Linked DNA regions of Homo sapiens: all the other regions are linked to region 2. Evidence: fine-mapped QTL for protein levels in blood plasma. A gene starts in region 2. Each other region holds a variant in brackets. All regions are shown on one strand. Distances are from middle to middle. Region 1 overlaps VWC2 (von Willebrand factor C domain containing 2). Region 2 holds the start of VWC2 (von Willebrand factor C domain containing 2). Region 3 has its middle 42 kb from the start of VWC2.

Region 1 (8,185 bases), 29 kb after region 2:
TCACTTCCTCTGGGAATTGAGGCAGGCCCAAACCTGGGATGGGAGTACATAGGAGCCCAGCATGGGTGCTGGTGAAGGCAGATGTAGGTGGTAGGAGGTGAGGCCTGATTGGCGATCCTAATTCTAAGCATCAACTCTGATTTTTTAGAAGTGAACAAATCTCCAAATACAATCATGCATCACTAAATGACAGGGAAGCATTCTGAGAAATGCATCCTTAGGTGATTTTATCATTGTGTGAACATCATAAAGTGAACTTACACAAATCTAGATGGTGTAGCCTATTTATTACACACCTAGGTTATATGGTATATCCTATTACACACCTAGGTTATATGGTATAGCCTATTGCTCCCAAGCTGCAAACCTGCACAGCACGTTACTGTCCTGAAAACTGTAAGCAGTTATAACACATGGTATTTTTGTATCTAAACATAGAAAAGATATGTAAAAATAAGACATTGTAATCCATGGGACCACGTCGTATATGCAGTTCCTTTTTGACCCAGTTATGGGGCACATGAGTGCGGCTGAATCAGGATTTCTAAATATTTAATGACAATATAACTGACAATCAAATTTTTTACAAAGCTACAAAACCTTTGAGAAAATAGCATGCTGGCCTGTGTGCATGCCTTTAAGCAGTATTCTGTGGCATGGATTCAATGAAATTTCAGCTCCAGTGGCAGTAAGAAGTGTTTTTTTTCCAGGCCAGTGATCTCTGCTCCATTTGCCAAGGTGTGCACCTTCATGCAGAAAGCTGCTGGACGAGGCTGATTCAGCGCCTGCTGCCTAAGGACCTGGAGCCTTTTTGACGTTGCAGTTGGACCTTTATCTCTGGTCCTGCTGTATTCCAGGGCCCTCCCCGGCGATATGACATAGGGTGTGCTCTGGCCTTCTTTTAAATTCCCAAATGGAAATGGTGCTTTTTATTCCCTCCCTGGTGTATGCCTAGGTGAGGAGTAGATGCCACGTTGTGCTGCTTCGTGAGGACAGACCTCACTATCTGACCCGCTTGCTCCTTGCTGACTATCCTGATCTCTATAGGGGGATGGTGCTCCCCTCCCCTGGGGCAGGGTGTTCTGGCTCTCCATCATGTAATCCACACCACCTGGGCTTGAGGGCTTATGCTCTGAGTCCTTCCAGCTGAAGGCTTCTGACATGCAATAAACCATGTCTCTTGCAACTCAAGGTCTTGGCTTTTAAAACTCAGAATTCTGTTCTCATTCTGCTTGCTATGTATATATCCCCCTTGAGACAAAAATGCTACAGACTGAATGAGGGAATTGGTAGGAGACAAGGAAATGAGACCCACAATGATGACAGCAACAATAAAGAGCACCACTGGTTATGGTAGCAAAAAAAAAAAAAAAAAAAAAAACCTAATTGTGCCAACAACAACAAAAGAAACTCATCTCAAAAACAGGCCTTTATATTACTTCAAGATTGATTTTAACTTCTAAGGCTACATTGCCAACCAGGTCAGTGTTTTGTCTCAGGCTACACTAAAGTTTTTCAAAGTTTCCTTTCTTTTTTACATTTTTTTGGCCAAGTACACATACACACACTCCTTAGCCCTCACTCCCAGGCAGGTTGACTGTGGTCTAGTGCCTCAGAAAGAGACATGGTTAAACTCCAGTTGAGCTTTTGCTTCTCGTAATAGCCAGTCCACTCAGTGGAGATTTCAGTTTTTAGTGTTTGCATTGTATAGACAAAGGGAGCATCTGTGAGAGTTACTCATGTTCTTTACCTTACAAGCGGTATTTGTATCATGGACGTGGGGCACACAACTCAACTGGGGTCTCCCTGCCCCTGGCAAAGCAGGAACTCAGCTTGATACGACCCATTTCCATGTCCCCCATTTCCATGGTCTTTCTAGTGAGTATCCCCACTTCCCAGTTTTGCTTCTGATGGCTGGGTCTGCATATGCTCTTCCTGCTTTGTCCTGGGTCAGCCAGATCAAAAATCACTCCATTGGTGGTAACCAGGAGATAAATCACCATGCCCTGTGTGAGTGACCATGGAGGGTCCCGTTAGCCACGTACAGCTTTCTTGGGAATGGCTGGTATGCTTGATTTGGATAGCTCAAGAAGGCAGAGTATGAGCCCATGGCTGGAAAGTAGAGAGAGGCAAATGGAAGCTTGGTTTCTAACAGAGCATCGTGATGCTGGATAGTGGGCAGAATGACCTGGAGGAAATTGGAATCACCATGGACTCGCAGTCAGGAGCCCTCAGTGGAAGAGGACCTTGTGCTCACAGGACAGACATGCCCATGGCATGTTGCCTAACACCTCTGAGTCTCAGTTTCCTGTTAGTACAAAGGGTCAGTAATTTGAGTACGTGTATTTTAGCGCTGCTGTAAAAGTTCAGTGAGGGAATATTCATAGAGCTCCCGGCCCTTGGCCCCGCTTGGATGCCACCCTGTTTCTCCTCCTTCACCCCTTTCCCCTTTCCTATTCCAGTGTCTTCGTAACTGGAAACACTGGGAGTGTTCCATGTGAGTCTGGGTGGTGACTTGACAGGGTTATAGACAAGGGATTCACCTACGTGGTGAGGGGATGGGCAAGAACTCAGCAGCAAGTTTTTATTTGTTTAATTTTTAAAGAGATGAAAAACATTTCTTCAAAAAAAAGTTTAATAAGAAACCCAATATGCAGACCACAAATTAAACAGTGGCTCTGGCTGGACAGGAGAGGGAACATCATAGCCCTGTGGCCCGTCCTGTGCGTTTGCACCTAAGACAACTCACCAAACACCCAGCATGCCTGTGTCCACACTCTGAAAACCACTGGGCTGGATCATTTTTTAAACATTCCTAAAACACTTAGGTGTCTTCGCAGAAAGTTTAGGGAAAGAAAAGTATGACCCTGTAGGGCCAGGCTCACTCCTGTAATCCCAGCACTTTGGGAGGCTGAGGCGGGCAGATCACTTGAGGTCAGGAGTTCAAGACCAGCCTGGCCAACATGGTTAAACCCCATCTCTATAAAAAACACATAAATTAGCCAGGCATAGTGGTGGGTGCCTGTAATCCCAGCTACTCAGGAGGCTGAGGCAGCAGAATCGCTTGAACTCGGGAAACAGAGGTTGCGGTGAGCCGAGATCGCACCACTGCACTCCAGTGTGAGCGACAGAGCGAGACTCCATTTCAAAAAAATATATATGACCCTGTAGGATAAACATGACAGCAGGCTAAAGTGCTGATTGTGGGCTTGTGTTTCAGGTGTCTCCATGCGAGAGGTGTCGCTGTGAAGCCAACGGTGAGGTGCTATGCACAGTGTCAGCGTGTCCCC[A/C]GACGGAGTGTGTGGACCCTGTGTACGAGCCTGATCAGTGCTGTCCCATCTGCAAAAATGGTATGTGAGATCCCCGTTGGTGACGGGGTGCACCTCCCACCCTGATGCACAACCCATGTGCTGCTTCATGGTAGACGGGACACATACGGATACGTGAGTTTCATCCTATGTATCAATACACATGCGTACACACGTGTGTAATCTTTCAGCCACAGTGGTTCTGTAGCAAGGCCTTCTCTCTCTTACTGGCATCAGCACCATGTTTTATGGATGTTAAGAAGTTCTTTGGGGAGAAATTCAATTTCCACCTTTGAGGAGAGTCACTTATTTTAATTTAACTTTGTTTGTTCTTGCAAAGCTGTTTCTATCTTTCCAAGACACATTAAACACACTGGTTGGGCTCATTTACTTTTCATTACTAAGTGAATGAAACTTGGAACATAATTGAATATTTTTCATAAGCAAATTAGGCAGGAAGAGAGTCCCTTCCTATTCCCAGTGAGAGCCCCTGGTAGATCAGAAGCCTTGCTTACTTTATGAAAATGAAGTGGCAGGATGTCCTTGATCCTAATTTGTCATGGGAGAGTGTTTCCTCATCCTGACAAACGATGATTACTCTGTACCTGAGGTACTGAGGGCATTACACTATAAGACGGTTTTTGACAAGAGTGCATACCCAGGCTGGCTGGGCCTGAGAATTATGGCCCGGAGGGCAGTTTGACAAGAGGCTGAGCAGAGCTTGGGAAACAGCGGACAGAGGGGACACAGCCGGAGTCTACAAGGATCTGAGTGGCCTCGCTGACAGGAGCGACTGGGCTTTCTGGATGTTGCCCAGGGTATGCTGTGGGGACCCCTGGTTGAGAGCATTCAGAGCTAACTTGTGATGCTGTCGGCCGTTCATGTGGGTTGCTGGACCGAGGCTTGATAGCTGTGTGGCATGGGTTTGGTATGTGGCAGGCATGTGTTGGTGGATGGTGACACAGGGGTGGTCATGGTGCTCAGACAATTCCCAGAGTCTGTCATGACAGTCGAAATTGTGCGGGCCATGAGGTTCCATGGGTACCTTCGACCACGTACCTGTACATATCCAGATTTTACTACAACACATTGTAAAACTCTTGAGGTAAATAATTGGAAGAGGGAATGATGTTGCTGTTGAAGGATAGACCTGAAAGAACAAGATGACTGTGTTAGGAATGTCATAATCATTGTAGCATAGTACATCCAGTCCTCCAAAGGCAAGTGGACAGTGTTAAAACAAAGATGTCACAGAGTGTACTTTATATAGGGTTGGCTGGTCTCTTGTGCATGTTAATTATGAAGAAATCCTGAGGTAGGATTCCATTAGACAAGAACGAGGGGGACTTTGAGCATGGAGTGTGTTTTTTTTTTAAAAAAAAAAATGATGTTGAGACACCAGCTGTGAGATGGAGGGAAATCAATACAGTTTACTCTACTAGTGTTAATTACCACTAATTAACACTAATAAAGGGGGAAGAAGACTCTGGGATTGGGGAAGGAGAGGCAGATGGAGAATCTGGCAGAGTCTCGGTGTGGCTTTCAGCACACCCGCTGAGGAGCCCGAGTGAGCGCCTCTGGTCTGCTGGGAGAGCTGAGGGCTGGCGCTCAGGCCATGTGCCCTGCATGTCGGGGGTACTGGACGACAACAACTCTCACTGCGTCAAGGGGTTTAGTGAATGGCTTAAATATGGGTTGCTTAAATATTTGGCGTCTTAACTACCCAAGATATTCCATGTTTTTCCTGTAAATTTTGATTATAGACTAAGTCTTGGCATTAGATAGCCGGGAATCCTAGCTTGAGTGTTAACAATAGGTGAGAAGACAGGATTTCAACCCCTGGATTTTTTTTTCTTGCTTTTAGAGAAATTTCAAACCTACAGAAAAGTTGAAATAACTGTCCAGTGAACAATTGTATACCTTTAGCTACACCTGTTGCTAACACGTTGCCGTATTTGCTTTGTCTCTTTCTTTGGCCCTCTGTCTTTGGTTCTCTCCTGCCCCATCTCTCTATATACATAACCCAACACCATCAATATATTTACTTATTTTTTCTTTCCCATAAGACACATGGCACAAATTCTATTGAGACTACCACCAACCTGAAACCTACTGAATAGTGTTCAAGATTTTTTTAGAGTTTTTCTTTTGCCCTTAGGATTTATCCTTCTTAGAGCATACAGTCAGAGAACTACATTGAGCAGTTACTTGAATTAATACTTAAAAGTGTGCAGAAATGTTAAATTTACAAAGAAGTAATTTATTTCTGTGTTCAATTTTTTCATTTAAGATATAGTTATATTTTTGAGTAAAAAAATGTACAAAAACTAAACACTTTATAAATATTATATACCCAGAGATTCACAGTTTGTTTTAATATTGCATTGATGGTTTTGGGAGATGGTTGTTGTCCTGATGGTAAACTTCTAAATGTTGACCCTTTAACTCTATATTTTGAGAGGCAGTATGGGATGGAATAAGGCAAGATTTTGTGGTGGCCCATTAGAGATTTTTAGAAGGGAGATGAATATGTTTTTTAAAGCTAGATTTATATTACAGAAAGACTTCTATTATAAGGCTTGATGCAGTTATATCAAAACATCAACAACTTATTTTGGGGAGTATAACTGGAAATAAATTTAAATGTATCTAATCATGCACATACAATTACATTTCTTTTATTCACCAGATAGAGCTTGGCTTTCAGCTGTCTCTAGTTATAGGGTATTCTGACCTTGACAGGGAAAATGGGGTTTGAAATTCTTAGTAAAAGAGAGCTGCTTGAAAAATGAAAACAGTTTCTATGAAAAACAAATGCTCTATAATAACTGACTGAGATTAATGAATAATTTACAGTAGTCCAACCCTGCCTCCCCACATAAACAATGTTCTTGTAAAAAAATTATATGTTTGATATATCACAGATTAGAGGACATCAGAAATGAATGCTTTATATGAAATTAAAAGCTTGGATAGACTTATCTTGGATGAAATATGAAGGTTTTAACTCTTGATCTCCGTAGACCAGCCTTTACTCCTCACTCTGGCATGTCTTGACCTGTAGCATTAAATAGCTCTTTCTCCGACAGAAGGAAAATTACAGTTCAGTTGCTAGCTGCCAAAGTCACTTGCATCAAAGGAGCAGAAGTTGGAAACCAAGAATGCCTTGAATATAAATAAATGATCACAAATCAAATGTACTTTAATATATTCACTTTGTTGACTTGTGCAGATCAATCTCCCAGTGTTTTTCTTTTGATAAAATGGATGTTGCATGGCATTATTTGTTTTTAAATTCCACCCCCCCACAATGATACAAACAGTGAGTGTTATTTGACTTTCAACTATTCAGCTTTTCTCTGGTGATAGGTGCACAGCACCCATTCCGATCAAACCCCTTAGTTTTAGACATGCTTGTCTGCATTAAGTAGGCACTAGGCTCCCATTAGCGATCAGAAGACCTCCATTCTGCAAGTATACATGTCATCTTACTTTATGGATCCAAAGAAGAAAAATGATAAAAGTAGGACATTGGTGTTGAAATATGAGGACTTTGTCAGAATTAGCTGTGCTTCTCAAAGGTGGAATATGGTATCCAAGGGAGGATACGACATATGCCAAAAGCACAAAGCCACTGGATATAAAGGTTGTATATCTCCCTGAAGTATTACTGCCACCTGATGATTATTATTTGCAGCTTTATTTTTACAGGAAAACATTTTTTGGAGGAAAGTGAAAAACATTTATGACACTTTAAAGATAAACACTGAGACGTCAAATTATTAAACATACGTTCATGGGAAAATATGTAAGAAGCACTGACTGAGAATTAGGCAGAGTTTTGTTTGTTTTCCTATGTATTTCATAGAGTAGGATAAGATGGTAGTAAATGTCATGCAGTGGGTTAGACAAAACGGAATGGTGTGTGTGTGTGTGTTTGTGTGTGTGTGTGCGTGTGTGTGTGGTCATATCAAGATCCTCTCACAAAGAAAAGCCTGCTCCTATGTGGTCTCACCATTGAATCCTTCCAAAATTCTTACCAAGGAAATAATACAAATTTTATGAAAATTCTCTGTGATTATTTACAGATTACGTGATTGTGCCCATAAAAAATAAAGGAATTTACAAATATCAAAATGAACAGTTGATTTTAACAAGGATGTTTAGCAAGATCAGTGTTTGAAAATCAGCTGTATTTCTGTATACCAGAAAGAAATAGAAGTGAATTAAAAACTAGAGTTTCAAATAACATCATACAAATCAAATACTTTTGGAAGTAAATCTAACAAAATTGTGAAAAGTCTCCATACTTAAAAAACATGAATCTTTATTGAGAGAAATTAAAGAAGACCTAAGTAAAAGGAGGGATATATCATGTTCATGATTGAAAGACTCAATAACACAAAGATGTGAGTCTGCTTCAAAGTAATCTATTGATTCAGTACAAAATTCTAGCCAAAAATCCAATGGTTTTCTGTAGCAATTATCAAACTGATTCTAAAATCCAAATGGTATACAAAAGCTAAAGACTGGCTTGAGAAATATCCAAGAGGAACAACAAAGCTGGAAAATGTACAAATATTTAGACTCACTCCAAGAGATAGTAATTAGCCCGTTGTGGTTTGGTCCCAAAGAAAGACTGACAAATGGAACAGGACAAAGTCAGAAAAGGCCTGTGCATGTAAGACCACCAGCTGTGTGACTAACCTGACATCACAGGACAGTGGGAAAGGAGTAATCTTTCCAGTGAATTGTGCTAGACCAACTGAATAGCAGTATGGAGATAAAAGAGATCATGATTGCTACCTCACATTTGACAAAAAATCATTTCCAAACAGATTGCTGATTTAAATATGAAGGCTAAAACAATAATGCTT
Region 2 (8,185 bases):
GAAGAAAATGGAAGCAACAAACTCAGTTAAAACGGGGCATGAAAGCAGAAATGTGCTATATTCCTAGAGTGCTTTGGGCTTCCTATTCATTCAGAGATCCTCTCTCTTCCCTTTTAAAGGTGAGAAAACAAAGAGCCTGTAACACTGAGTGACTTGTTCAAAGTTGCAAAACTGGCCCCTGGTGGAACTTGGATTACACTCATGTCACTTCAGTCCCTGACCAGAGATCTTTCTGCTCCTGCCTTGCACTCTAGCCTGGAAAAAAGGAAAGGATGGAAAAGTAAAGAGGAAGGGAAAAGCAAAAGGGAAGGGGAAGAACAAGGGGAAGTGGAGAGAAAGAGAAGGGAAAGGGAAGGGAAGGAGAGAGGAAGGGAGGGGAGGGGAGGGGAAGGGAGGGGAGGGGAGGGGAAGGGAGGGGAGGGGGAGGGGAGGGAAGTGAAGGGAAGGGAAGGGAAAAAGGGGGGATGGGAAGAGAAGGGAAAGGAAAGCAAGGAAAAGGAAAATAAGTGGAAAGGAAGAAAGGAAAGAGGGAGGGAGGGAATAAAGGAAAGAAGGAAAGAAATGAGGGAGAGAAAGAGGAAAAGGAGAGAGACGGAGGAGGGAGGGAGAAAGGGGAGAAGGAGGGCAAAGGGAAGGAAGGAAGGAAAGAAAGGAACAAAGAAGGAAGGAAAGAAGAAAAGTTAATCGCAACAATTCATTGCACTGGCAATAAATAAATTGTATATTCCTTCAACGCCTGCAAAGTCCCCTATATTTTCTCGAATTACTCAGCTCATCAAGCTGCATGGGTATTGCTCTTCTTCACAAAGGACAGCAATCCCTTGGAAACTGCTTTCCTCCCTCATTCTATCAGGCCTGTAACACTATCTCTGAGAATATCTAACAGAACAAAGCCATTTGGACACTTGGTCACTTAATTCATCCTCAGTTTTGTCAGGCCTCTTCTTGAAAACTTGGCTATCTCATATTCATGGCTCTCTACTGGAAGCAGCTGGCTGGGACAAGAAGTTTCTGATTCAGAGAGACCGGTGATTGAGGTGGGATTAATAAAGGGACATCATTATTTCCTCAGCTGAGCCCCCAATCAATTTTTCAGTTAGAATCCTGGACACATAATGTTACTGTTTCGTTCTTATTAGTCACATGTGTTTGGGGCTACCCCATCGTAACCACATGAGAGTACTGTTGGCAAAACAAAACAAACAGGATGTTTAATGACAAGAACAGAATTAGCTAATAAGTCAAATAACAAAATTTGTAGCCTAACCAATGCTATAAAAGCACTTGATTTTATAGAACCGAGGGCCCATTTTGCACATTACATATGATCACACCTCGAGCCGTGTTTTTATTTTGGTGGTGTTGTGAAAGGTGTGATATTTGGATTAGAGCATCATAAAGACACAGAAGCCATAACTGATTAGAGCATGTGATGAGAGGCAGGTGGGTGGGTAGGCAGCTGCAGCCACAGCAAATGTGGCCTGTCTCTTTTCTGAGGGTAACAAGAAACGAAAGGGCCGAGTGTGGTGGCTCACACCTGTAATCCCAGCACTTTGAGAGGCCGGGTGGATCATTTGAGGCCAGGAGTTCAAGACAAGCCTGGGCAACAAAGCAAGATCCCATCTCTACCAAAAAAAAAAAACAAAAAAAAAACAAAAGAAAAAACCTAAACGAAACAAAACAAAACAAACAAACAAAAAATTAGCCCTGTGTGGTGACCTGTACACCCAGCTCCTCCGGAGTCTGAGGCAGGAGTTTGAGGCTGCAGTGGGCCGTGATCATGCCACTGCACTGAAGCCTGGGTGACAAAGTGAGATCGTGTCTCTAAAACATTAAAAAAAAAAAAAAAAGGAAAAATGAGAGTGAGAACTGAAACAGCAGAAGGGCTCAAATCATCCTGTACATAGAAATCCTCCATCCAGGCCAGGCGCGGTGGCTCACCAGCATTTTGGGAGACCGAGGCAGGAGGATCACGAGGTCCGGAGATCGAGACCATCATGTCCAACATGGTGAAACCCCGTCTCACTAAAAATACAAAAACAAAATTAGCTGGGGGTGATGGCGGACGACTGTAGTCCCAGCTACTCAGGAGGCTGAGGCGGCAGAAAGGCATGAACCCGGGAATCGAGCTTGCAGTAAGTGGAGATCGCGCCACTGCGCTCCAGGCTAGGCCACAGAGCGAGACTCCGTCTGAAAAAAAAAAAAAAGAGAGAGAGAGAGAGAAAGAAATCCTCCATCCAGCCCTGTTGGTTGTGTATGTGTTGGAGGGGGTGGAGGGGCAGCCTTCTCAGGCTTTCAAGGAGGGCTCCCTAGCACCTCAGCTAAGATTTGTTTGTCTATACTATTAAAAGATAGACATAACTGTGTCCCAAACCAGCCTCCCCAGTTCCCACCAGCCAGAGCGCCTGACCTTGCAGGGAAGCTTATCTGTTTACCGTCCGAGCACTTTCAGGGATTCTAAAATGCCGTGAGTGGGAACCACTGCCATGGGCCATTTCCATGAAAATTCAATTTCGGGGATTAATTTGAACAGGTACTATTGACGTTTTCTCGTTTACACAAGATCAAAGAGTAAAAACAACCGGGCCTCTGCTTAACAGTTGAGGATTCTAGCAAAGTTAGGAAACAGGTTTCTATTTGTAGTAGAAGAGAGAGCAGGCAGAAAGAGGAAGATGGGAGCGGGGAGAGATTGGCAGAGATTCAGAAAGTTCGCGCTTGAGATTTTTACGTTTCTTACTCGTAAACGTCTATTTCTCTGGGTTTCTGAATGCAAAGACGAGAAAGTCTCAACAGTCTGCTAAACTAACACGGCCTTCGAATCCCAATCTGAACACAGTAGCTGAAACAAGCTGTCCACAAAGAGGAAAGCCAGAGGGGGCCAATTAGGAAGGAAGAAATTAAAGAAAAGAGAAAAGCCAAGATGAAAGGTCCAGCGCAAAGTGAATGACTCGACTGGAGAATGGCAGCCCTGGCAGGGTCTGCGGCCGGCTGCGGAGGTGGGGACGCGGCCGCGCGGACGAGTGACAGGTTGGTCCGGCGCAGCAAAGGGAGCGGGTGCGGCGGTAGGGCCTCTCCGGGGGCAGCGCGAGGGCCTCCCCCGGGGCAGCGCGGGCCAAGGCGGGGCCTCCAGAGCGGGGGCAGCAGAGGAGGGAGCGGAACGGGAGCCGGGCGGAGGCGGCTGCGGCAGGGGGAGGCGGGAGGCGGGCGCGCTAGCTCCCATGCTGGCCTCGGTGCCACTCGCGCGCCGGCCGCGCTCCGGGCTTCTCTTTTCCCTCCGACGCGCCACGGCTGCCCAGACATTCCGGCTGCCGGGTCTGGAGAGCTCCCCGAACCCCTCCGCGGAGAGGAGCGAGGCGGCGCCAGGGTGGCCCCCGGGGCGCGCTTGGTCTCGGAGAAGCGGGGACGAGGCCGGAGGATGAGCGACTGAGGGCGACGCGGGCACTGACGCGAGTTGGGGCCGCGACTACCGGCAGCTGACAGCGCGATGAGCGACTCCCCAGAGACGCCCTAGCCCGGTGTGCGCGCCAGGCGGAGCGCGCAGGTGGGGCTGGGCTGTTAGTGGTCCGCCCCACGCGGGTCGCCGGCCGGCCCAGGATGGGCGCTGGCAACCCGGGCCCGCGCCCGCCGCTGCTACCCCTGCGCCCGCTGCGAGCCCGGCGTCCGGCCCGCGCCCTGCGCTCATGTATGTAGGTTTGGCGCCGGTCTTCAGGGCTGAGGGTGCATGCTGGGTGTCCCCGCGCGGCCGGACGCGCTCCAGCTGGGTTCAGCCGCTCAGCTGCTCCGGAGGAACCCCCTCCCCCGCCCAAGTTTGTGAATATGGGCGCTTCGCCCAGTGTTGAGGTCGGCAGGGACCGGGCAGGGGGTCAGCAGGGCCGGGCACGTCCGGAGCCCTCAGGGAGGAGGGCTGAGGGGGAGGGGACAGACGCACCGGAGTGCGCAGAGTGGGGGCGTTCGGGGAGTGAGGCGGAGAGAGGCTGGATTGCCGGTGTCCTGCGGCGTCTCGGGCTCTCCCAGCCCCTTTGGGCGGCAGAAACTTTGGAATCCAGAAAGGCTGGCCGGGATCCAGCGAGTAGGAGGGTCTCGCGCCCACTCTGCGCCCTGGGGCCCCAGCCTCCCGCACTGCACACCTTGGTGCTGCCCGGGCGCTTCTGCTCCGCAGCCAGGACACTACAAGACTGAGCGCTGCGGCCGGCGACCTGGCTCCCAAGGCTCGGAGGGGCGGGCCGGCAGAGGAGCTGAAGCCCCGGGAATCCCCGACCCGGCCCTCTGGCAAGGGGCCGAGGGCATCCTTTCATGCAGCGGGGCTTAGAGAGCGGGGAGGGGGCGTCTGCTCCCGAGACGGGAGTCTTTTAAGAAGTTGTTAGAAATGAATCGTGGAGTCCTAGGAGAAGCTTTGTTTAACCTCCCCGCATTTTCCCAGCACAACCCCCTAAAGCAAATGAGGAAGAGTTTCCCTCTTATCTTCCTGTACATTCGTCCGTCTCTAACTCCACTGCTGAATTCTCCATTTAATAACCTTCGGGAAATGTGGCCAGGACCTAGGGAGGGACACCCTGGGTGCCTGAATTACGTGGTTCAAGGCAGAGCTTTGCAGGGGGGCGCGGGCCTGGCTCGCTGCGTTCCCTGGGCTCCGCAAGCCGCCCTTGGCCATCTCCAACACTAATCACGACTACATCAGAAACACGCCGGCCGGTGTCGTTCTTGGATTTCGCTTCCAATGTATCGCTCCACAGTTTGTGATGTCTAAGAACCCCGGCCGTGCACCGACGCTGGGCATGCTGCCCCCGCCCCCGTCGCCCAGCTCGTTAATCTAGAGCTATGCCGGAGCCCGGGTGGGGGCCGCGGCGGGCCGGGGCGCGCGCGGGCCGCGGGGCTCAGTTGTGCTGCTGTTCTCTCCGCAGGGACGGCGGCTCCCGGCTGGCGGCGGCGCGCCCCCGGGCTGTGAATGCGACTCGCCCCTCGGCCGCGCTCCCCGCCCGCCCGCCCGCCGGGACGTGGTAGGGGATGCCCAGCTCCACTGCGATGGCAGTTGGCGCGCTCTCCAGTTCCCTCCTGGTCACCTGCTGCCTGATGGTGGCTCTGTGCAGTCCGAGCATCCCGCTGGAGAAGCTGGCCCAGGCACCAGAGCAGCCGGGCCAGGAGAAGCGTGAGCACGCCTCTCGGGACGGCCCGGGGCGGGTGAACGAGCTCGGGCGCCCGGCGAGGGACGAGGGCGGCAGCGGCCGGGACTGGAAGAGCAAGAGCGGCCGTGGGCTCGCCGGCCGTGAGCCGTGGAGCAAGCTGAAGCAGGCCTGGGTCTCCCAGGGCGGGGGCGCCAAGGCCGGGGATCTGCAGGTCCGGCCCCGCGGGGACACCCCGCAGGCGGAAGCCCTGGCCGCAGCCGCCCAGGACGCGATTGGCCCGGAACTCGCGCCCACGCCCGAGCCACCCGAGGAGTACGTGTACCCGGACTACCGTGGCAAGGGCTGCGTGGACGAGAGCGGCTTCGTGTACGCGATCGGGGAGAAGTTCGCGCCGGGCCCCTCGGCCTGCCCGTGCCTGTGCACCGAGGAGGGGCCGCTGTGCGCGCAGCCCGAGTGCCCGAGGCTGCACCCGCGCTGCATCCACGTCGACACGAGCCAGTGCTGCCCGCAGTGCAAGGAGAGGAAGAACTACTGCGAGTTCCGGGGCAAGACCTATCAGACTTTGGAGGAGTTCGTGGTAAGATGCGAACGCCCGCCGGGCGACTTTGCACCTTCCAGGAAGGGGTGGAACAGCTTTGGTTCTGTGGTCCCCCACTTTGAAGAAGAGGTGCTCTCTGGTTCTGAGAGGTGGAGAGCACTGTGCTCACGTCCCTTTGACATGACCTCTCTTTTTCAGGGCAGAGGTAATCCTTCCCAGAGCACTGTGGCCAATCCATAGGGATTCCTTCGGTGTTCACTTTAAAAGGGCTTCATGAGGATGAAGCCTATGGCACTGAAGGGAAGGATCCCAACAGGTATCGGAGGGACTTTCAACATTAATGTACTGCTCCTAATTTGGGAATGTTGTCGGTGAAATTCTTAACCTGCTTTCAAACACAGGGTAATTTACGGTACCATTTGGGATATATTCTTCAACTAATAGCTAATTAAGGGAGACTATTCATATAAAAAGCCATTTCCCTAGATTATGTGTTTAGGGTATCATGCAAATGTTCTAAAAATTAAAAGAAAAAGAAAATATTTGCTCACTGGGTGCCAAATCATAGTGGATGGTGAAACCAACAAGTGCAGTTAATGGTTAAAAATTGTTTTGTTTCAGATGAGTAGTAGTAATGTTAATAATACCGGCCATCTCTCTAATGCCTACTGTGCGTCAGGATCCCGCTGGTTTTCATGTACGTTAGTTAAATCTCATCCCATGCTAGGAGGTGGATTATTATCCATTGTCTCCATGTTATGGAGAAGAGGAAACAGACACAGAATATTTAAATAATGTGTTGAAGGCAGAACAGCTATTAAGAAACAGATTCATATGTCAAACTAAGCAGTTCTACTCCATAGCTTAGGTTTTTAACCCTTATACTCTACTTGAACCAAAAGCCCAGCTCCACTGGGGCTTTAGTTTGGGTGAAGGTGCTGCACAGCATGCATGCACAGGCTCTAGGTAAAATCTCTGCCAGTGGGCTAGGGGCCTGAGAGAGACCTGCACAGGTGTTCAGTTATTCCAAACACCTCAAGGTAGGTTCAACCTATGGCCTGCCTGGACTTAGCCCATTGACTTACCAGGCCATAGCTGTCCTTTTCCCACCTGCAGAGGGCGTTATGGAACGTGCAGCTACTAAAGCAAAGGTTTAGGGAGGAATTCTGCTGGAATACCCCTCCTGGAATTAGCCTGTGAGATCTGCTAATTCCCAGGATGTGAAGCCCATGTAATTACTGACTTGTGGCAATGAATTATCAAGTGTTATATAAGTACAAAGCCAGGAAGGACAGATCTATATATAGTGTACAAAGTATGGAAAGAGTGCTGGAATTTAGAGTCAGGAAACATGGTTATTCATTCTGGCTTTACCACTAACCAGCTGCAGGACTGGAACAAAAGACATATGCCCTCTGGGTTTCTTTTCTCTTATCTGTAAGATAAGGGGCCAGCTTTCCCTAGGCTCATGTAGCAAAATATAACTCCAGGCATACATTGCTTAAGTACTCACATTTGACTGCAGCCCTTTGGAGAAAGACAACTGGGATGAGCAACTCATATGAACCACGCCCAGGCCATGCAAAATTAACTAAATCAGAAACCCTGCCCTCAAAATGCTTCCTGCCTACGGGAGGGTCTGGTAGATATCTCTCCAGGTGTTTTGGGTGCAGAACAAAAGTTCACAGGCAAATGTGTCCAGGTAAAGGAACCTGTGGGTGCTAGAAGAGCTCAGAGGAGGGGCCTTCCATTTTGGCCTGGAGCAGGGTCATAGAACACTAGAACAATTCTCTTAAGTTTTGAATTGGTAACATCATCGGCTCTTCTAAAGTCAAAGATAAGCAGTTGGTTTTTAATTAATTCCTTTTGTTGTTTGCACTATTTATAGTTTCATAGTAATTTTCTGGAATTGTCCTTAGAAGTAAACTGAGGAATTAGTAGCACTTTGATCTAGTAAGCCCAAATACTTCAGTGTCCACTTACCTACCTGAGATCACAGGTAAAGGAAATAATTCAAACTTCTGTCTTAACAATTCATGCTAAATGCTAGCAGCCATGAAGCTGCTTTTGTCTATGGAGGAGAGGGATCTCTCATTTAATTTCCTCTTTGCTACCTGTTTGGTAGTCCATAGGTAGAATGTGTTTTCAAACTCTGAGGATGGGAGATGATATTGACAAAAGGGAAATTGGAAAGATTACAATCTTAGGAAGAATTAAAATACCAGTAAAGCTATTTTTGGAATATTAAGTGCATCTTCCATCTTCAAATGACGTTTCATTCTAAACTTTCATCATTTATTACCAGATGCTGGGATGCACACATGCTTGAACGTTGCAAAGTTGTTACATATTTTTAATTATATGCTTGTTCTTACAATATGTCAACTACATAAAGATTTTATAGTGTTAGAGCATGTTTGCTCATTTTTGTTAGTATCGGGAACATTTCTAGGCATTCTGCTAATTTATCGTGGCCTTGTGCAAGCCATTTATTGTCTCCATTTTTGTTTCCTTCAATGTACAA
Region 3 (8,185 bases), 43 kb before region 2:
TAATTCTCACTTAAGAAAATAAAAGATTTCAATGGTGGTGATTGATATCAAGAAAGACGGGAACAACTTCAGACACTGGGCATGTAAGGGATAGCCAGGGTAACTGGAATTAAAGAGAGCTGATTTGAACAGGATGGATTTAGGGACTAGGAAGTGAGGCACAATATAGAAGGAAAATGAAATAACAGCAAATGCATGATGCATATACTTTAAATTTTGTTTGGGTTGAAGGGCTGTGTAACCCACGTTTGCATCTTTCTTTTCCCCTCCTGAGGAAGGTGTTCTCTAATCTGAGGCAGCAATAAATCTTCTCCCTGCCATCACCCTAACTCTGTGACCTTGAACTTATACTAAGGCTGTCTTTTGAGAATTACTACAGACAAAAATATAAGAAATGAGGATAGCAAGATATACATTCATATAATGAGACTGAACGTGAAGAAAACAATTGACTGAGATGTTATTGAATTCAGAGGGGGAAAGTTTCCTGCAAGAAGTTTGGTCAGCAATGAAAGCATTAGAAATGAAGAACCAGGGAAGCAGACTTTGTAGGACTCATGTATCCTCCCCATAGAAGGAGGTGTCCGGCCATGGAGTTGAGCGCACTCTGCTAATGGAAAAAGATAAACCCCTTCTGTGAACGTGGAGGCATGAAGATAGCCTAGCCAATAAAATCATCTCAGTTCTGAGCTCAAGAAGTAACCTTCTGACTTACAAGGCTTCCCATGCCACTTATTGATCTCAGGGAGTAGAGGCTCCAGCAATGTATGCCACAGGGAAATCCGGTCCTTGGGCATTATTTTATTCCAAATTCCAGATGAATAACTGGTATCTATTGTATAAAATTCTTTCTCTCTGGAGTTTGGTTAACATGATTCTGCATTCCTCAAGCTTGCTTAGTTTTAGGATTCTGACAACGTTGAGTGCCCAGGGGCTAAGGGGCAAGCCCTGGACTCAGTGAGCACTCCAAGTCATATATCATTTCGTTTACAATATGACTGTTTTCAGCTAGCCTTCCTTGTTGAGAACCAACCACAACACTTTCCTTAAAATATCACTAATCCCAATAACAATAATTCTGTTCCAAAAACCTTAATATGACAAAGTAAGAGATAAGAAAAGTTACCCTGGACCAGTTTCTAGTGAAGAATGAGCCTTCTCCTAAAGCAACTACCAGGTTTTCCAGGTACCATCCTTCTCCATCTTTTTGTTTTGTTTTGGTTTTTGTTTTTGTTTTTAAGACAGAGTCTTGCTCTGTCACCCAGGCTGGAGTGCAGTGGTGCGATCTGGGCTCACTGCAACCTCCACCTCCCAGTTCAAGCAATTCTCATGCCTCAGCCTCCCAAGTAGCTGGGATTGTAGATATGTGCCACCAAGCCTGGCTAATTTTTGTATTTTTAGTAGAAATGGGGTTTTGCCATGTTGTGTAGGCAGGTCTTGAACTCCTGGCCTCAAGCAATTCAGTCACCTCGGCCTCCCAAAGTGCTGGGATTACAAGTGTAAGCCACTGCACCCAGACTTCTCCATCTTTTTCATCTTATGCTAAGTAGACCACTCAACACCTCCTGGCCTGAGTCTCAGGGAAGGTCTCATGGTTAGCTACTCATTGCAATAGAAGTGAGTGCTGAGCAGGCTGTTGGATAGTTCAGTCAAAAGAAATCCTCCAGTCTCTTCCTAAAGAAGACAATGCCTACAGAGGCATAAACAGAAAACAGACTGAGTGAGTGACCGGTATGGTAAAAACATTACCTCAACTCAGTGCTAGAGAAGAAAGTGTAGTTTAATTCACACCCATTGCAGGGGCAGCAAACATCAGGACATCTGGTGTTCTCCTGACTTCAGCTAAATGACACCTCCATCTTGCATTTGTTTCTGAATGTGATGTCCATAATCAGATATATGAAGGGCAACTTTAAATAATGGATGCAGGCATGACATCACTTCTTGCGAAAAAATATCACATAAGGATGATTAATGGCTTAAGAGCGTAGGTGAGTGAATTGCAGTCAATCTGGGAAAATAAAAGGAAAGTCAAGAAATAAAATAAAATAAAATACATATTCAGCAATGTTGCCATTCTCCTTCTCAAGAGAGAATTGTGATAAACTTGTGTGTGGTTTGGGTGCTTAAAAAGTCTACTATTGTTGGAAAAGGTATCTTTTCTGATACATAAAAGATGGTGTGGAAGGAGCAGCTACCAAAAGAGAGTCTACAAGGCTCAGCAGTTATTATAACTCAGCATAGACCTTACTTGAGCATGGGGGATTTCAGGGAGGCTGAATGCTGAGGTAATATTGAGCTTCTCTGAACATTTTCTATTTTCCTGTGTATTTTCTTCTAATGACATTGACAAAGCTCAAAATGTTTCTGAATTCCATTTTATTTCTTGACTCATAATGATAATGCAATGTGTTATAGAATTTTGAGTACATATGCAAAATTCAAATCAAATTGTGGATTGGTGGGAGGAGCTCATTCTTAGAGAGTAAAGAAAACCTTGAGAACTGATGGATGCAAGAGAAAACTAAGGCCACATCAATGACCTTTCTTCCCAGGGCATATGGAAATGGGTGGTAAGGACACAATATTCCAAAACCAAATCTGAAGGAGAGCGACAATTCCATCAGATACTAATCAATGAGTCAATATACATTGATTATTATTATGGATTTATATCCATAAATCCCTATTATTTGGTTGTCCTGACACCACATGGTGTCATAAATTTTTCTTCATAAATTATCCAGCCTCAGGTATTCCTTTATAGACACCATATGATGTCAGGACAACCAAATAATAGGGACTTGTGAATATAAAAAACACAGAAAGCTTTATGCAAAATGAAAGAAGAGCTTCCATGTGTTTGATATTTTAGATACCTCATGTAAGTAGGATCACGCAGTATTTGTGACAGACTTATTTCACTGAGGATGTGTCTTCCAGGTCTATCCATGTTGTCACAAATGGAAGGATTTCCTTCTTTTTTAAGGCTGAAAAATATTTCATTAAGGAATACACCACATTTTATTTACCATTTATCTGTTGATGGACAGTTGAGTTGAAGGGTATTCCACTATTGTGAATAATGCTGTTATAAATTAAAGAGTGCAGATATTTCTTTAAGAAAAACAGAATGATAATTGCCAGGAGATGGGGGTTTGGGGAAAATGGGAAGTTGCACAATGGGTATAAAGTCCCAGATAAACAAATGAATAAGGTCTAGTGTCTGCCATACAACTTGGTGCCTATAGTTAACAATGCAGTGTTGCACACTCAAAATTTTAAGAGGGTTTCAACAGTTTGGATGTTTGTCCCTGCACACCTCATGCTAAAATTTGATCCTAATGTTAGAGGTGGGGCCTAATGGAAGTTGTTTGGGTCATGAGAACAGATCCCTCATGAACTGACAAATGCCCTTTTTTCATGGGAGGGGATAAGTGAGTTCTCACTCTTATTAGTTTCCTTGTGAATTGGTTGTTAAAGAGTCTGGCATCTTCTTCCCCTCTCTCTTTTGCTTCTTCTCTTGTCATGTGATCTCTGCACATGGCAGCTCCCCTTCCCTTTCCACCATGAGTGGAAACAACCTGAGGCCCTCACCAGATGCAGATGCTGGCACCGTGCTTCTTGTACAGCTTGCTGTACCATGAGCCAAATAAACCTCTTTTCTTCATAAATTACCCAGCCTCAGGTATTCCTTTATAGCAAGACAAACAGAATAAAACAAGGCTAGATCTCACATTAAGTGTACTTACCACACACAAAAAAAGCAAAGGAACATAAGGAAACTTCTGAAGGTCATGGACGTATTTATTACTTTGGTTGTGGTGATAGTATCACAGGTGTATGCACGTGTGCAAACTCATTAAATTGTATACATTAAATATGTGCAGATTTTTATACATCAATTATACCTTAATAAAGCTGTGAAAAAACGAAATGAGAGACACTAGAAACAATACAAAATACCTTCCATAAATCAGATGAGAAAGATTCCTAGTCATTAAAGACTAAGCTGGATTCACATAGCCTAAAAATCCTAACTCCACAGACCGAGAAAGATGGTCCTATTAGCAAGAAAATGTCCAGAGAGGATCTCTAAAGGAAGGCCACAACCCAAAAGCTCATTTGTGTAAGACCTGACATCAGTCAGCATAGCGAGTTCTTAAATTCATGGCATTAACATTCAGAGGTTTGATTTATCACCAGGAAATCCATAAAATATCATAATAGATCATAATACTCAGAGTGCTTAGGAGAATTAAAAGGAAAAATGTATAGAAAGTACCTGGAGCATATTTGAATTATGTA[GGTGA/G]GTGAGTCAAGCAGAAACACAATATTTCCTTTTTAGTGTGTTACCTTACTGTTTTGTTTTGTTTTTGTTTTTAAATTAAATAGTGAATACCCATGTACATTCCTTGTGAATAGGAAAATCAATTTTTCCCCCACTGCCAATGAGTCCATAGTGCCTAATGTACTTCCAGGATTCTTTTTCATTGCTCTAGTGCCTGGGTACAGGTTATCCTGTAGCAAAACCCTCACTGAGGATAACAGAGGGCAGCCAAGAAAAATGGGGTTGTCTCAAGGTAGACAGACTAGGCTCCAAAAAGAGTGAGTAAACATTTGAAGAGAAATGAAGAGGTTGATACAACTCAGCAGGACACAGAGAAGTCCATGCAGTGGCTGCATCCAGGTAACCCAGGAAAGGTAAGTGGGTCTGCACCAGCTTCCATAACAGCAGAAGCCTGGACAAGAATTCCAGGCACAGCATCAACCACAAAGAGCCTGAATGTGAGTCCTCAGATGATAGCAATGGCTACAAGCAGAGCGCAATTGGTGAACAGGCTCTCAGAGGCTCTTGGAAGTGGCTGACTGAGCAGGAGTGGACTCTAAGATCGCAAAAGTTACAGTGAGTGTCTGCATGGAGAAGAACCTGTCTTAAATAAGCAAGCATTTAGGGAGGAGCAACATTGGCTGAGGGCTTCTCAGATATGGCAATAGGAATTGCTGGATGAGATTAGTGGCAAGGTGATATTGTAGAATTAGGATCAGAAAATTTTTTGTGTAAAAATCAAGATAGTAAATATTTTAGGCTTTGTGGGCCACACAGTCTCCATTGCAGCTACTCAACTCTACAACTGTGGTCCAAAGGCAGCCACAGACAATACAGAAACAAATTGGAGTGGCTGTGTTCCAATCAAATTTTATTTAGAAATTCAAGTGGCCAGCTGGATTTGCCTATAATTAGCTGATGTCCATCTCAGAAGAGATCCTTTACATTTTGTAATGAAATTTTATTCTTTTGTCTTGATAATAAAAACAGTAGGTGATCATTGTTGAAAATATAGAAAAAAATAGAAAAGTATAAAAAATATTTTAAATCACCTACATATCACCCCTCAGAGACCCATTGAAACATTTTATGTATATTCCATTCAGCATTCTTGCCAATCTTTTATACAAAATTGAAATTCTAATGTACAAATGATCCTGGCTACTACTTTTTCAATGAAAATGATGTCATGCATATAATCTCTTTAAAATCCCTCCTAAATATTTGGATCACTACATAATATTCTAACATATGGATATATCAACTTTTATTTAATCCATATAAACTGACAAAGAGGTTGTTTACAATATTCTGCTACTATAAATAGTTTGGTGTTAAACATTTAATACACTAATCTTGATGTGTCTTTTCATATCCTCATAATCAATTACGTGATGTTGAGTCTGAGTACAGAACCCAGGCTGTGGCCTTGGAGTGTACAAGGAGAAACGAGAGGAAGTGCTGCTTCTAACATTAATCTATAGGCTGACTTTCCTTAGGATAGAGCAGAGAATAAAACAATTTTCTGCAGTTGAAAATAACTATTATTGCAATAAGTGATAATTCTATTATCATGAACATTTCAATCAAGAAATTGAGATGCAGTCATTGATCAGAAAGTATAACAAGGTTAAACCATTCAATTCTGATAGTTGAATTTTAAATTTGGATATCAAGAAAAATAATTGCAGATAGAATTCAGGAACCAAAAGATATTTTGATGGAAATATTTATAATAATAATTTATATTCATATAATGACTGGTTTTTAAATAACGTTCACATACATTATACCATTTGCCTCAGAAATTAACTATTTCTCCTGATAGGTTTTTTTAAGACAATAGACACATGACCCCAATTAAGCAAATTGGCTCCTGAACTAGGTACAAACGATTCAAAGCAGATCCATTCAATATACTGTACCATCACAAACTGAATTCTAACATTGTCTTTTTAAGAGAGAAGCTGGTGGCTAGGCATCATCCAGTACTTTTTGTTTTCTGCACCTGCTATGCTTACACAAGGCCTGATTGCTTATATTTTCTTTTTGATGACAGGCATTTGGTTCTTCTAAAGCAATTAACAACAGGCTTGAAAAAAAGGCCAAATTAGTGTCTGAATTAAATAAAATCTAGCATTTCTGTAACACTTTACAACTTACAAAGATCCAAACAAATGTTAGAACATGAGATGTTTGTCACTGGATTATATGAACTATTTGTCAATAGATTATAATTCCTATGGTAATGTTTTCATTCATAAAAGTAATTATTTCCTTTAGTTATTCTGTACTGTAGGAATTATAATCCATTATATGCTCACGTTTAAAAAATTATTTTGAAATGTGATTATACTAAATTGTGTAAAGAGATCTTCCTCATTCAAATTCACAGAAGAAAGAAAGATAATTTATATAACTAAACTCAATTGCAATCAATCCAACAATAACTCCCAGGGTTTTTTATTTGTTGATCATTATCACCAATTTTGATAGCCACTGGATAAACAAAAACAAGGGGTTAAAGAAAAATGGTGTCTTCCAAACTGATGCAGCTGGTTTTAATACACAAGTAGTTTAGAACAGAATATAACATTTGCAATAGATTATTAGATTGAGGCAAAAAAATTTTTAAAAACAGCAAAAACTACAATCCATATTGGGAAATGATTTTTTATTAAAGTTCAATGGGTTCCCTACACCTTAAAATAGTTTAAAATAAAATAAAACATTTTATACTACATAGTTTACAGCCTATAGCAATCAAAGCTCTCCATAACATTTTTGAAAATTTCTCAAAGGCCTGACATTGTTAAGGTTATCTCTGGCTCTGAACTCCTGTTTTCACTGACATAATTAATTAATAGTTGATGTCTGGAAATCCTACAAATGTCCTCTCCATCTGTCTTACATGCATAGAGTCTCAGCTTATACATATGAACAGAATGCCACACACAAAAAAACTAGAATAGCTACTAAACCAACTTGACTGAAGACTTCTTAGGAAAGGCAGAGAGGCTCACATCTTAGCAACATGAAGAATTTCTATTTAAACAGTATTGTCCTTAAAATATTTCTGCAAGAAACAGGTGGTGAAAGCTAGGGTGGGAGCAAGGTTGGGAGTCTAAAAGGTGACCTATGTTTACAGGTGGGACATGAACATCACGCCAGCAGGTTAAATGTTGATTCACCAAAAAACAAAGCAACCCTGAAACACAGAATAAGATAACAGGAAACATGTCTGTTTTAAGCTGAAGGCTGCATGGAGAACCTTTTTTAAATGTCCCATCAAACCTAACCAGAGTACATAGACAGAATTCGTGCTACCTGAGTGCCTGAAAACCCTTAGATGAAGAATTTAGCTGGACGTAGTCTTGGGTTGGTGGTGTTAGAGGTAATTGACAGAAGTAAATGTCCTTAAGGTGTATGTATTTCAACCCACAGATAAATTTCCGAACTGTTCTAAAAAAATTCAATCACTCAAAGAAAAAAATTACAAAACATGCCAGAAAACAATGTATTGTGCATAAAAGCAAAGACTTATAATGCAGTTATTAAAAGGAATGGAGATAGAAACTAAATACTTATAACTTGTGTCCCAAAACAAAAGTGGTGTTTTGAAATATAACTAAGGGGCAAGGGAACTGGTAGATTTGGAAAAAATTCATACATTTCATTCTCAAAGTTTAAATTTTTTTTAAATTATTGAAATTGGACATAAATATAGTAAATTAGTAAAAAAAAGAATATAGATCATCAAAAATTATTCAGAACACAGCACAAGAAGAAGAATATTGTATTAGTCTGTTTTCACATTGCTGATAAAGACATACCCGAGACTGGGCAATTTAAAAA

The links. PIP is the posterior inclusion probability: the model's chance that the variant is causal. Protein levels are from the aptamer-based SomaScan assay of Sun 2018.
Region 1: its variant is fine-mapped to the plasma level of the VWC2 protein (Sun 2018, PIP 0.95). The variant lies in the coding sequence of VWC2. If it changes the protein, the assay may bind it differently, which can mimic a change of level.
Region 3: its variant is fine-mapped to the plasma level of the VWC2 protein (Sun 2018, PIP 0.95).

What each region holds. Positions count from the first base shown.
Region 1 is chr7:49,799,491-49,807,675 of GRCh38, forward strand. VWC2 (von Willebrand factor C domain containing 2) reads left to right here. Exons shown (of 4, transcript NM_198570.5): 3 at 3,221-3,350. Among named protein-coding and RNA genes, the nearest start is that of VWC2, 30 kb to the left of the region's middle. The variant A/C (reference allele first, on the strand shown) is at 3,291.
Region 2 is chr7:49,770,432-49,778,616 of GRCh38, forward strand. VWC2 (von Willebrand factor C domain containing 2) reads left to right here and starts at 3,207. Exons shown (of 4, transcript NM_198570.5): 1 at 3,207-3,682; 2 at 4,902-5,700. The coding sequence starts at 5,005.
Region 3 is chr7:49,727,183-49,735,367 of GRCh38, forward strand. No RefSeq gene overlaps it. Among named protein-coding and RNA genes, the nearest start is that of VWC2, 42 kb to the right of the region's middle. The variant GGTGA/G (reference allele first, on the strand shown) is at 4,309.